Linked DNA regions of Homo sapiens. Each later gene encodes a partner of the first gene's protein in a complex. Links are inferred from orthologs where the notes say so. Each region holds a gene or a part of one and is shown on either strand. Other genes may lie near its edges.

Region 1 (7,297 bases):
GAGTTTGAGACCAGCCTGGCCAACATGGCAAAACCCCATCTCTACTAAAAAATATACAAAAATTAGCTGGGCGTGGTGGTGGGTGCCTGTAATCCCAGCTACTCAGGAGGCTGAGGCAGAAGAATCACTTGAACCAGGGGGATGGTGGTTGCAATGAGCCAAGATCATGCCACTTCACTCCGGCCCAGGCAAAAGAGTGAGAGTCCATCTTAAAAAAAAAAAAAAAAAAAAAAAAAAAATACAGATTAGGCATTCCTAATCTGAAAAATTTGGCTCCAAAATGCTCCAGTGAGCATTTCCTTTGAGTGTCATGTGGGTGCTCAAAAAGTTAGATTTTGGACCATTTCAGATTTCAGAGTTTTGGATTAGGGATGCTCGACTGGTAAGTAATGCAGATATTCCAAAATCTGGACAAATCTGAAATCCAAAATGCTTGGAATAGCAGATACTCAACTGGTAGCACTCCCTGGAAGAATATGCACCAAACTGATAGCAGTGGTTACTTCTGGAGAGGAGGGGAAAGAACCAAGATTAGCAGTAGGATCAACATATATTTTAATGTTTTCTGTATTTTTATTACTTGTATAATTTAAACATTTTAAATTAGTAATAATGAACAATCATGAAACTATGGATGATTTAGTCCAGCAAAATATCCAATTGGGAACCCTCATCCTTCTGACGCAGAGCCCAAATGGCGCAGTGGGAAATGCTGCAGAATCTTGACAGCCCCTTTCAGGATCAGCTGCACCAGCTTTACTCGCACAGCCTCCTGCCTGTGGACATTCGACAGTACTTGGCTGTCTGGATTGAAGACCAGAACTGGTGAGGCCTTCAGGAAGTTGGGGGAATGAAAAAGGTGGTTCCTTACTTCTGGGCCCCCGGGATCCTGGAATCATTAATGGCAGGAAGGGGTTGGAAAGCCTCAGGACTACAGTAACACTGCAGAGACACTAATACTTCTTATTCCTGGTGCCCAGGCAGGAAGCTGCACTTGGGAGTGATGATTCCAAGGCTACCATGCTATTCTTCCACTTCTTGGATCAGCTGAACTATGAGTGTGGCCGTTGCAGCCAGGACCCAGAGTCCTTGTTGCTGCAGCACAATTTGCGGAAATTCTGCCGGGACATTCAGGTACTTGGAACGGTTGGGAGTGATGGGGTAGCACTGGGAGCTGAGCATAGAGGAGTAAGGTTTGGAGAATAGAATAGTACCTGGAGGTGGAAAGGGAGACGGGAACAAATGTGGGGAAAGGAGGACAGAGTCTGGACTTGGGGAATCACTAGCAGAGAGAAGGGTTGCATATACGTGACACTGTTGGGAGGATGCTATGGTGAAAAGACAAAGGGCTAAGAACCCCGAAGGAGGAGGAAATACTGTGGACATTGGTGGGGAGGGTCTAGGGCAATAGGTCATTGAGAGTGGTTGAATTGGATCAATCCTTTCTGTTTACCTATTCTAGCCCTTTTCCCAGGATCCTACCCAGTTGGCTGAGATGATCTTTAACCTCCTTCTGGAAGAAAAAAGAATTTTGATCCAGGCTCAGAGGGCCCAATTGGTGAGGACAATTCAGTGGTAATGTTGGAAACTCCTGAAGTAGAGAGGAACCATGGAAAGGACTCAGGGAGTTGTCTCAGAACAGGATCCCCCCGACATCCTGTGGTATAATTTCAGGCCTGAACTTAAGGCATGAAAGGCCAGAGTTAAAACGTGCTCAGAGCCTCTTTTTTCAGGAACAAGGAGAGCCAGTTCTCGAAACACCTGTGGAGAGCCAGCAACATGAGATTGAATCCCGGATCCTGGATTTAAGGGCTATGATGGAGGTTAGTAGATGTGGTAGGAGTTAGGGTTGACAGCGTTCAGCCTAACACCTCCCTGAGAAGCAGCCTCATCGGGGTCCTCTCCCCTCTGCAGAAGCTGGTAAAATCCATCAGCCAACTGAAAGACCAGCAGGATGTCTTCTGCTTCCGATATAAGATCCAGGCCAAAGGTAGGAAGCACATTGAGGGGCTGGAGAAAGATAAGTGCCTGCTGAGAAGCCGGAGCTGGAAGTGAACAGGAGAAAGCTCCGATGAGCAGTAGTCACTGTCAGACACACCCCACTGACTACAGTCCTGCTGCCGTGCAAAGCTGGAAGTGCTTTGTGGAGGCTGAGCTGGAGGTGCAGCTGAGAGACAGTAAATGTTGAGGAAATGCATGGAAAACTAACAGTGTTTTATTTGAGGGGGTGTCTGGTCCAAGCATGACCATTCAGAATTTGCCTGAGGGTCCCACAGGTGCCTGTGCTTTGCTTGGTTTCCCTTTCTTCCTCCACAAAATTCCTCCTTCCTGACTCTGACTGAGACCCCAGTCAGGAAGGAGAGGAAAGAACCCCTGGACTGACTCCTGTTCCCACCATCCAGGGAAGACACCCTCTCTGGACCCCCATCAGACCAAAGAGCAGAAGATTCTGCAGGAAACTCTCAATGAACTGGACAAAAGGAGAAAGGTGGGAGACAGAGGACAGAACATGTGGGCAACAAGGACCTGGAAAAATGAGGGATGTGGGGACCCTGGTCCTCTAGCGCTGGCTTCTTTGTTTCTTCATCCCCAGTTGGGTGGTGGAGGGTGAAAGGGAGAGATGCTCAACACTCACATTATCTCTTTCCCAGGAGGTGCTGGATGCCTCCAAAGCACTGCTAGGCCGATTAACTACCCTAATCGAGCTACTGCTGCCAAAGTTGGAGGAGTGGAAGGCCCAGCAGCAAAAAGCCTGCATCAGAGCTCCCATTGACCACGGGTTGGAACAGCTGGAGACATGGTGAGAGGTACCACCCCAACCCTCGTCCTCGCCATGCGCTGTGATTTGTAAGTTGCAGTGCCCTGCATATAGCAAGAGATACTGTTCTCTATTTGTCTCTGCTCCCCAGAATGAGCCCTGCTCCCTGCTGACTGCAGCTCTATTCTGCTCCTCATCCTCACCACGCAGGGAGCCCAGAGCCCAGTCTCCTTCAGGGAAAGGAATGAATTAACCCACAATCTGGTTTTTCCTTCTTTTTTAATCACCCAGAAATATATATATATGTATTTTTTTTTTTACTGCAACGAATACAATGACAAGAAAGGAAGGAAGGAAGGAGGAAGAGAAAATTACCTATTACCTAGCTTATTAAACAAAAATGGAATCATATTGTCCATACTATTTTGAAATCCATGGGGTTTTTTTTAAGCTTAACAGTATTTTTTATATATATATATATATATATATATTTTTTTTTTTTTTTTTTTTTTGAGACGGAGTCTCTCTCTGTTGCCCAGGCTGGAGCGCAGTGGCACGATCTCAGCTCACTGCAACTTCCAACTCCCAGGTTCAAGCAATTCTCCTGTCTCAGCCTCCCGAGTTGCTGGGATTACAGGCACACACCACCATGCCTGGCTAGTTTTTTTGTATTTTTAGTAGAGACGATGTTTCTCCATGTTGGCCAGGCTGGTCTCAAACTCCTGACTTCAGGTGATCCACCCAACTTGGGCTCCCAAAGTGCTGGGATTACAGGCGTGAGCCACCATGCCCGGCCAACAGTATATTATATTTATCCATGTTATTTCTTATGTCCACACAACAGTCCCCTATATGGTGGTAACATAATTTAATTAATGAACTCCTATTTTCAGCTATTTAGGTTATTTTCAATTTCTTGTTACCTTTTTCCAGGAAACGCTATATTTTATGGTAATTATATTGTGTTGTAGAAAAATCACTAGTGTGTCCTCCAACATACTTGAAAAATACCTACTGTTTTCAATATTTTCTCATTTAAAAATTTATTATAATTTAGTCTTTTAGAAATATACCAGGCCAGGCATGGCGTCTCATGCCTGTTATCCTAGTACTTTGGAAGGCTGAGGCAGGAGGATCACTTCAGTCTTGGGGTTTGAGACCAGCCCGGGAAACATAACAAGACCCCATCTCTACAAAAAAAAAAAATTTGTTTTTTAATTAGGCATGTCCGGACACAGTGGCTCACACATGTGGCCAGCACTGTGGGAGGCCAAGGTGGGTGGATCACTTGAGGTCAGGAGTTCAAGACCAGCCTGGCCAATGTGGTGAAACCCCATCTCTACTAAAAATACAAAAATTTGCCAGGTGTGGTGGCGCATGCCTGTATTCCCAGCTACTCAGGAGGCTAAGGCAGGAAAATCACTTGAACTCGGGAGGCAGAGGTTGCAGTGAGCTGTGATCATGCCACTGTACTCCAGCCTGGGTGACAGAGCGAGACTCCGTCTCAAAAAAAAAAAAAAAAGATTAGGCATGGTGGCACACGCCTGTAGTCCCTAGCTACTCAGGAGGCTGAGGTGGGAGGATTGCTTGAGCCCAGGTGTTGGAGGCTGCAGTGAGCCATGATTATACCACTGTAGTCCAGCCTGGACAACAGAACGAGACCCTGTCTCTAAAAGTATATATGTACACATACCATAATACCCAGCTACTGAGGAGGCTGAGGCAGAAAGAGTGCTTGAGTCCAGGAGTTTGATGTCAGCCTGAGCAATATAGCAAGACCCTCACCTCTTAAAAAAAAAAAAAGTAGATTAAAAAAATACCACAATTGCTCAGGTAGATTGAAAAACAGGCATATAGTACTTATGGTACAGGACCAGCATGCATGCATGCATGCATTGATTGATTGATTGATTGATTGATTGAGACAGGGTCTCTCTCTGTCTCCCAGGCTGGAGTGCCTGGCCTTAAGTGATCTGCCCACCTTTGCTTCCCAAAGTGCTGAGATTACAGGTGTGAGCCACCATGTCAGCTGGCGAGGCTTTTTAAAAGATAGTTCCAAGTGTTACAGCTCTTTTAGGATTTGTCTAGCAGGCTTTCAGGTTTTTGCCAGAAACCACCCCCACCCCCACCCCCACCAAAAAAAAAAAAAAAAAAAAAAGATAGTTACAAATGTTTCCCAGAATAGTTGTCCCAATCGAATCTATTTTCTCATGTGTAGTGTATGGTTGTTTTCCTGTCACCACATTGCTGATTATTATTATTTTTAATTATAGAGACAGTAAAGTACAGTAGTTAAAAATGTGAGTTGGGGCTGGGTGCAGTGGCTCACACCTGTAATCCCAGCACTTTGGGAGGCCAAGGTGGGCGGATCACCTGAGGTCAGGAGTTCAAGACCAGCTTGGCCAACATGGCAAAACCCCGTCTCTACTAAAAATATATATATATAAGTTAGCCGGGCGTGGTGGCACATACCTGTAATCCCAGCTACTCGGGAGGCCAAGGCAGGAGAATCTCTTGAATCCAGGAGGTGGAGGTTGCAGTGAGCCAAGATCACACCATTGCACTCCAGCCTGGATGACAAGAGAGTGAGACTGTCTAAAAAAAAAAAACAAAGTGTGAGTTGTACAATGAGACTGCCTGGGATCACATACAAGCTTCATCCCTTACTAGTTGTATGACCTTAAGCAAGTCACTTAACCTTTCTGTGCCTCAGTTTTATCATCTGTAATGTGGGGAAAATAATAGTACCTGCCTCAGAGGGTTGTTTTGAGGATTAAATGCATTAATATGTGGAAAGGGCTTAATATAAGTTGTACATAGCATATGAAAACTGTTATGTTAAATCTATTAGCAGTTTTATATGTGAAAATAGCTTTGATTTTCATTTCTTGGATTATGAATCATGTTGAATAATCCTTTATATGCTTCCTGGATTCTTTTTTTTTCTTCCCCCCAGTCAGTTTCTGACTCTTCACATATTTACAGAGAGATCTTGGAACCTGGATGGGGGAATCCAGGAAACTCATGGATTCCTTCTTCCTGAATTTTATCACCCAGGTTCACAGCTGGAGCAAAGCTGTTGTTTCACCTGAGGCAGCTGCTGAAGGAGCTGAAGGGACTGAGTTGCCTGGTTAGCTATCAGGATGACCCTCTGACCAAAGGGGTGGACCTACGCAACGCCCAGGTCACAGAGTTGCTACAGCGTCTGCTCCACAGGTCTAGAGGCCAGGCAGGAACCCTGGGGGAAAGAAGGAACAAGGGAAGCCATTCTTACAGATACTGAGCTATATATTCTCTCCACACCTCTCTCTCCTCAGAGCCTTTGTGGTAGAAACCCAGCCCTGCATGCCCCAAACTCCCCATCGACCCCTCATCCTCAAGACTGGCAGCAAGTTCACCGTCCGAACAAGGTTGGCATTCCAGAACTCATTCCCACTTCCTTTTTCCAACCCTGCCACTGTGTATTTTCTGGCTTTACAGCTCTTCCCACTCTTGGCTTTTTCTTCTCTTTCCCTGCAATCTCCCTACCTCTTATAATCCCTCTTCTCTTTTTCAAACATCTAGTCTATCCGGAAGGTTGAGGTTGACCACTTTCCCCTATCCCCCTTCCTTCCCCCAGGCTGCTGGTGAGACTCCAGGAAGGCAATGAGTCACTGACTGTGGAAGTCTCCATTGACAGGTAAATTGGAGCAGGTGAAGGGTGGCCAGGACACGGGCTGCTGGGGTGGAGGAGATACTCACTCTTCACAACAGGGCCCTAGGGCTATCTCCTTCCTCCTTCCAATCCTACCTCACAGAAATTATAATTCATTTCTTTTGTTGAACACTTACTTTGTGACATGCAGCATGTCAGCTACTCATTTAATTGTCACACCAACCCCATGAATAAACTATTACCAGTGCACTGTACAAACAAAGATACAGGCTTAGAGAGACTGATTACATCTCTTCTCAAGGCCACATAGCTAGTGAGCTCAAGTCGGGTTTGAACCGAGGTCTGTCTGATCCCAAAGACGAAACTCCTAACTTCCATACTCTTTTGCCCAATGATTTTTTTAAATTTATTTCTTTTCAGGAATCCTCCTCAATTACAAGGGTAGGTGCTTGACAAGGACACTGCAAACATCTGTACAGTGTATGACCTGCAGAACCACATTCGGCAGCCCTGGTGGCACAAACAAGGAAGAGGGGGATTTGGGATATGGACAAAGGGAGATGGCGAGATCTGAAATGAAGTGGAACTTCTGTTTTTTTTTTTCTGCTGAGTTTTTAGAATAATTCCATTCCTTGTCTCCATGTATCTTCCTCCTGGAACAGCTTCCGGAAGTTCAACATTCTGACTTCAAACCAGAAAACTTTGACCCCCGAGAAGGGGCAGAGTCAGGGTTTGATTTGGGACTTTGGTTACCTGGTAAGAATAGTTTGTGACCTATGCTTTTATTACTATTTTTATTTTTTTGAGACGGAGTCTCACTCTGTCCCCCAGGCTGGAGTGCAGTGGTGCCATCTTGGCTCACAGCAACCTCCGCCTCCCGGGTT
Region 2 (3,098 bases), on another chromosome or scaffold:
AGTGCCTTTGCTTCCCTTCCAGTTACAGACACAACTGAGGCCCCCTTTCAAGGGGATCAGAGGTCCCTGGAGTTTCTGCTTCCTCCAGAGCCAGGTACGTGGCATTTCTGACTTTCTCCTGTGCCCTGTGCCCCTGAGGTCTTCCACCTTTGACTATGCATGCATTATCTAGTCAGTCAGGGCTTACAGCAAACTGTACCCACATTACCATAGCCCTAGGCAGTGGTTTCTAGGTGGCGAGAATTCCATATGCCTGGCCAGACTCCAAAAAGCTTGCTTCCCAAAAATACCACCCTATACACTCTCCTGGAAATCTACATTGAGACATTGATTTCATTGGGCCAAACAGAGGCCCAATCTCAAGGGACCTTCTAGTAAACTACAAGCCCCTGGGCATTGAGCCCTGAGGCCTCATGGTGAATCACATACTAGCTACTTGCCTCAGTGATAGGAAAACCTGAGAGGAAGCCCCCTGGCTGGTGTGGGGAGGGGAGGTGGAGTTGTTCCCCTGGGGAGGGGCTGCTGCCAGCCTGCATGCTCCTCCAGCACCAGGTAGGGCTGTTCTATCCCCAGACTACTCACTGCTGCTCACCTTCATCTACAACGGGCGCGTGGTGGGCGAGGCCCAGGTGCAAAGCCTGGATTGCCGCCTTGTGGCTGAGCCCTCAGGCTCTGAGAGCAGCATGGAGCAGGTGCTGTTCCCCAAGCCTGGCCCACTGGAGCCCACGCAGCGCCTGCTGAGCCAGCTTGAGAGGGGCATCCTAGTGGCCAGCAACCCCCGAGGCCTCTTCGTGCAGCGCCTTTGCCCCATCCCCATCTCCTGGAATGCACCCCAGGCTCCACCTGGGCCAGGCCCGCATCTGCTGCCCAGCAACGAGTGCGTGGAGCTCTTCAGAACCGCCTACTTCTGCAGAGGTGAGGCTGTTCTCTCTGGGCACATGAGCTTCCACCCCCTACCTCTTAGTACCCCCTGGGCCCAACTTGTTGGGTCCTGCTACCTCCCTATCTGCCAGCAGATCCTCCATGTAGCCTATGCATGGCACTCCTGCGCTTGTGTGTTGCATATCCTGTGTGGCCATATGCCCAGCCTGGCAGCTACCTGGCAGCTCTCCTCCAGCCAAGACAATGGAAGAGGTGGTTCAGGTAGAGCCCAGCACAAGAGTGTCATATCTTGGAGAACACCATCACACTGAAGCATGCAGTCACTATGTGAAGGTGCACAGAAGAATTGGCACAGAGATTTTGAGCCTCATGGCCTTCTCCTACGTACACACATTTGGGAGAGCTGGCACACATCACACACACTGGCCCTGGCTGCACCGTCTTTACCACACTCCAGGCATGCCTTAGGGTTGCGCTTCTCTCCCATCCAATTCCAGCTCCTACTCAATTCTAAACCTGACCTTAAGAGTGGGACCAGGTGTACAGGGGGTGCAGAGTGTGGGTGTTCCCAGGGCCATGGGTGCCCTAGCACTGGGAGGATGTGAGCAAGTAGCAAAGGTCTGGGCACATCTGAGTTAGCAGCCAGGGCTGCTACCTGGGAGGACTCTAAACTCTCCCAGCAGAGAGCTTGTCGGGCTGTGCTGTGATCTGCTACTTCTAAGCACTTATATGAGGCAGGGGCACCCTTTCCTATTTGCACATGGGTGAGTAGCACTTAGTTCCAAGTACTTCTGACCTTGCAGCTCCTGCTCTGGCAAGACCCCCTCCTACCTCTCTCCATCATGGGTTCCTCACTATTGCCTCCCTGCCTGTGGCCCTCTCTCTTCTTTTTGTTCTTCGAACCCTTGACCCTTTCTCTTTCAGACTTGGTCAGGTACTTTCAGGGCCTGGGCCCCCCACCGAAGTTCCAGGTAACACTGAATTTCTGGGAAGAGAGCCATGGCTCCAGCCATACTCCACAGAATCTTATCACAGTGAAGGTGAGCTCGGAGCAGGGGTAGAGTACCCATCTAATGAGAGCAGAGACAGTGGTGCTCCAGGAGGCAAAGGGGGTCTCCCAGTGGGGAAGGAGCTCCTGGGGGTGGTGTCTGTCCCTGATGCACGCACTGAGATGCTCTTCTCCATCTCTTCCAATACAGATGGAGCAGGCCTTTGCCCGATACTTGCTGGAGCAGACTCCAGAGCAGCAGGCAGCCATTCTGTCCCTGGTGTAGAGCCTGGGGGACCCATCTTCCACCTCACCTCTTTGTTCTTCCTGTCTCCTTTGAAGTAGACTCATTCTTCACACGATTGACCTGTCCTCTTTGTGATAATTCTCAGTAGTTGTCCGTGATAATCGTGTCCTGAAAATCCTCGCACACACTGGCTGGTGGAGAACTCAAGGCTAATTTTTTATCCTTTTTTTTTTTTAATTTTGAGATATACGCCCTCTTTCATCTGTAAGGGACTAGGAAATTCCAAATGGTGTGAACCCAGGGGGCCTTTCCCTCTTCCCTGACCTCCCAACTCTAAAGCCAAGCACTTTATATTTTCCTCTTAGATATTCACTAAGGACTTAAAATAAAATTTTATTGAAAGAGGAATCAGTATCTGATTTTCTGGGAGAAGAAGGTAGCAGTGGTCACAGATAGAGATGTAAACTTAAGAGTGGGGCACTGGGGTTCTCTTCCTGCTGACATCTCCAGCCTCTTTCCTCTCCTCTGCCCACAGGTTCTGGCTAAGATGCTGCCTGGGCCCTGTGGGTCCTGGGCCTGGCACTCTACAGAGGTACCCTCTGGGCAGATAAGATTAGGGTGTGGGTTGGGCACCAAGCCTTCAGCCAGGCACTATAGCCACCAACTTCACATGGTAAAGTCTGGGCTCCACAGTTCTTGCTAGAAGGCCCCAACATCGGGCCTGAGGTTAGTTAGATTGGAGGTCTAAATGAAGAGGAGACACTTGAGGGTGACCTGAAACTATGGTCTAGAGGCCCTGGGACCTGAGAACAGAGGAGTCAGAGAGAAGAGTTGCTGAAACTGTACCTGCTGTTACTGGCACCTCTTCCTCCAGCACAATTTCACTGTCACCCCAGCAGGGTACTCCCAAACTGGATTCCTTGCTCTATCTAAGCCCCATAAAAGACACTCTGGCCGGCTGGGCGCAGTGGCTCACACCTA

The links.
Region 2: the proteins of STAT2 (region 1) and IRF9 are in contact, whole or in part, in a crystal structure (PDB 5OEN), measured with the Mus musculus proteins. The link is inferred for Homo sapiens from one-to-one orthologs. Residues at the interface, in NP_064347.1 of Mus musculus: Arg163, Gln164, Lys166, Asp167, Glu168, Asp170, Val171, Phe174, Arg175, Thr177, Val178, Phe179, Leu181, Lys182, Asp188, His190, Gln191, Gln193, Gln194, Leu197, Thr201, Lys204, Met208; in NP_032420.1 of Mus musculus: Leu206, Leu208, Tyr212, Leu233, Asp234, Arg236, Ser244, Glu245, Ser246, Ser247, Met248, Asp270, Arg271, Leu274, Val275, Ala276, Asn278, Ser279, Arg280, Phe283, Val284, Gln285, Leu287, Cys313, Glu315.

What each region holds. Positions count from the first base shown.
Region 1 is NC_000012.12:56,349,969-56,357,265, reverse strand, and holds part of STAT2 (signal transducer and activator of transcription 2), read left to right. Parts: intron 1-687; 5' UTR 688-694; coding exon 695-825; intron 826-980; coding exon 981-1,134; intron 1,135-1,462; coding exon 1,463-1,558; intron 1,559-1,733; coding exon 1,734-1,823; intron 1,824-1,914; coding exon 1,915-1,990; intron 1,991-2,402; coding exon 2,403-2,488; intron 2,489-2,651; coding exon 2,652-2,800; intron 2,801-5,815; coding exon 5,816-5,974; intron 5,975-6,075; coding exon 6,076-6,168; intron 6,169-6,377; coding exon 6,378-6,437; intron 6,438-6,833; coding exon 6,834-6,854; intron 6,855-7,075; coding exon 7,076-7,169; intron 7,170-7,297. UniProt on the Homo sapiens protein: Signal transducer and activator of transcription that mediates signaling by type I interferons (IFN-alpha and IFN-beta).
Region 2 is NC_000014.9:24,164,041-24,167,138, forward strand, and holds the end of IRF9 (interferon regulatory factor 9), read left to right. Parts: intron 1-22; coding exon 23-94; intron 95-546; coding exon of another isoform or gene 547-573; coding exon 574-915; intron 916-1,016; coding exon of another isoform or gene 1,017-1,143; intron 1,144-1,806; coding exon 1,807-1,922; intron 1,923-2,081; coding exon 2,082-2,156; coding exon of another isoform or gene 2,157-2,215; 3' UTR 2,216-2,525; downstream 2,526-3,098.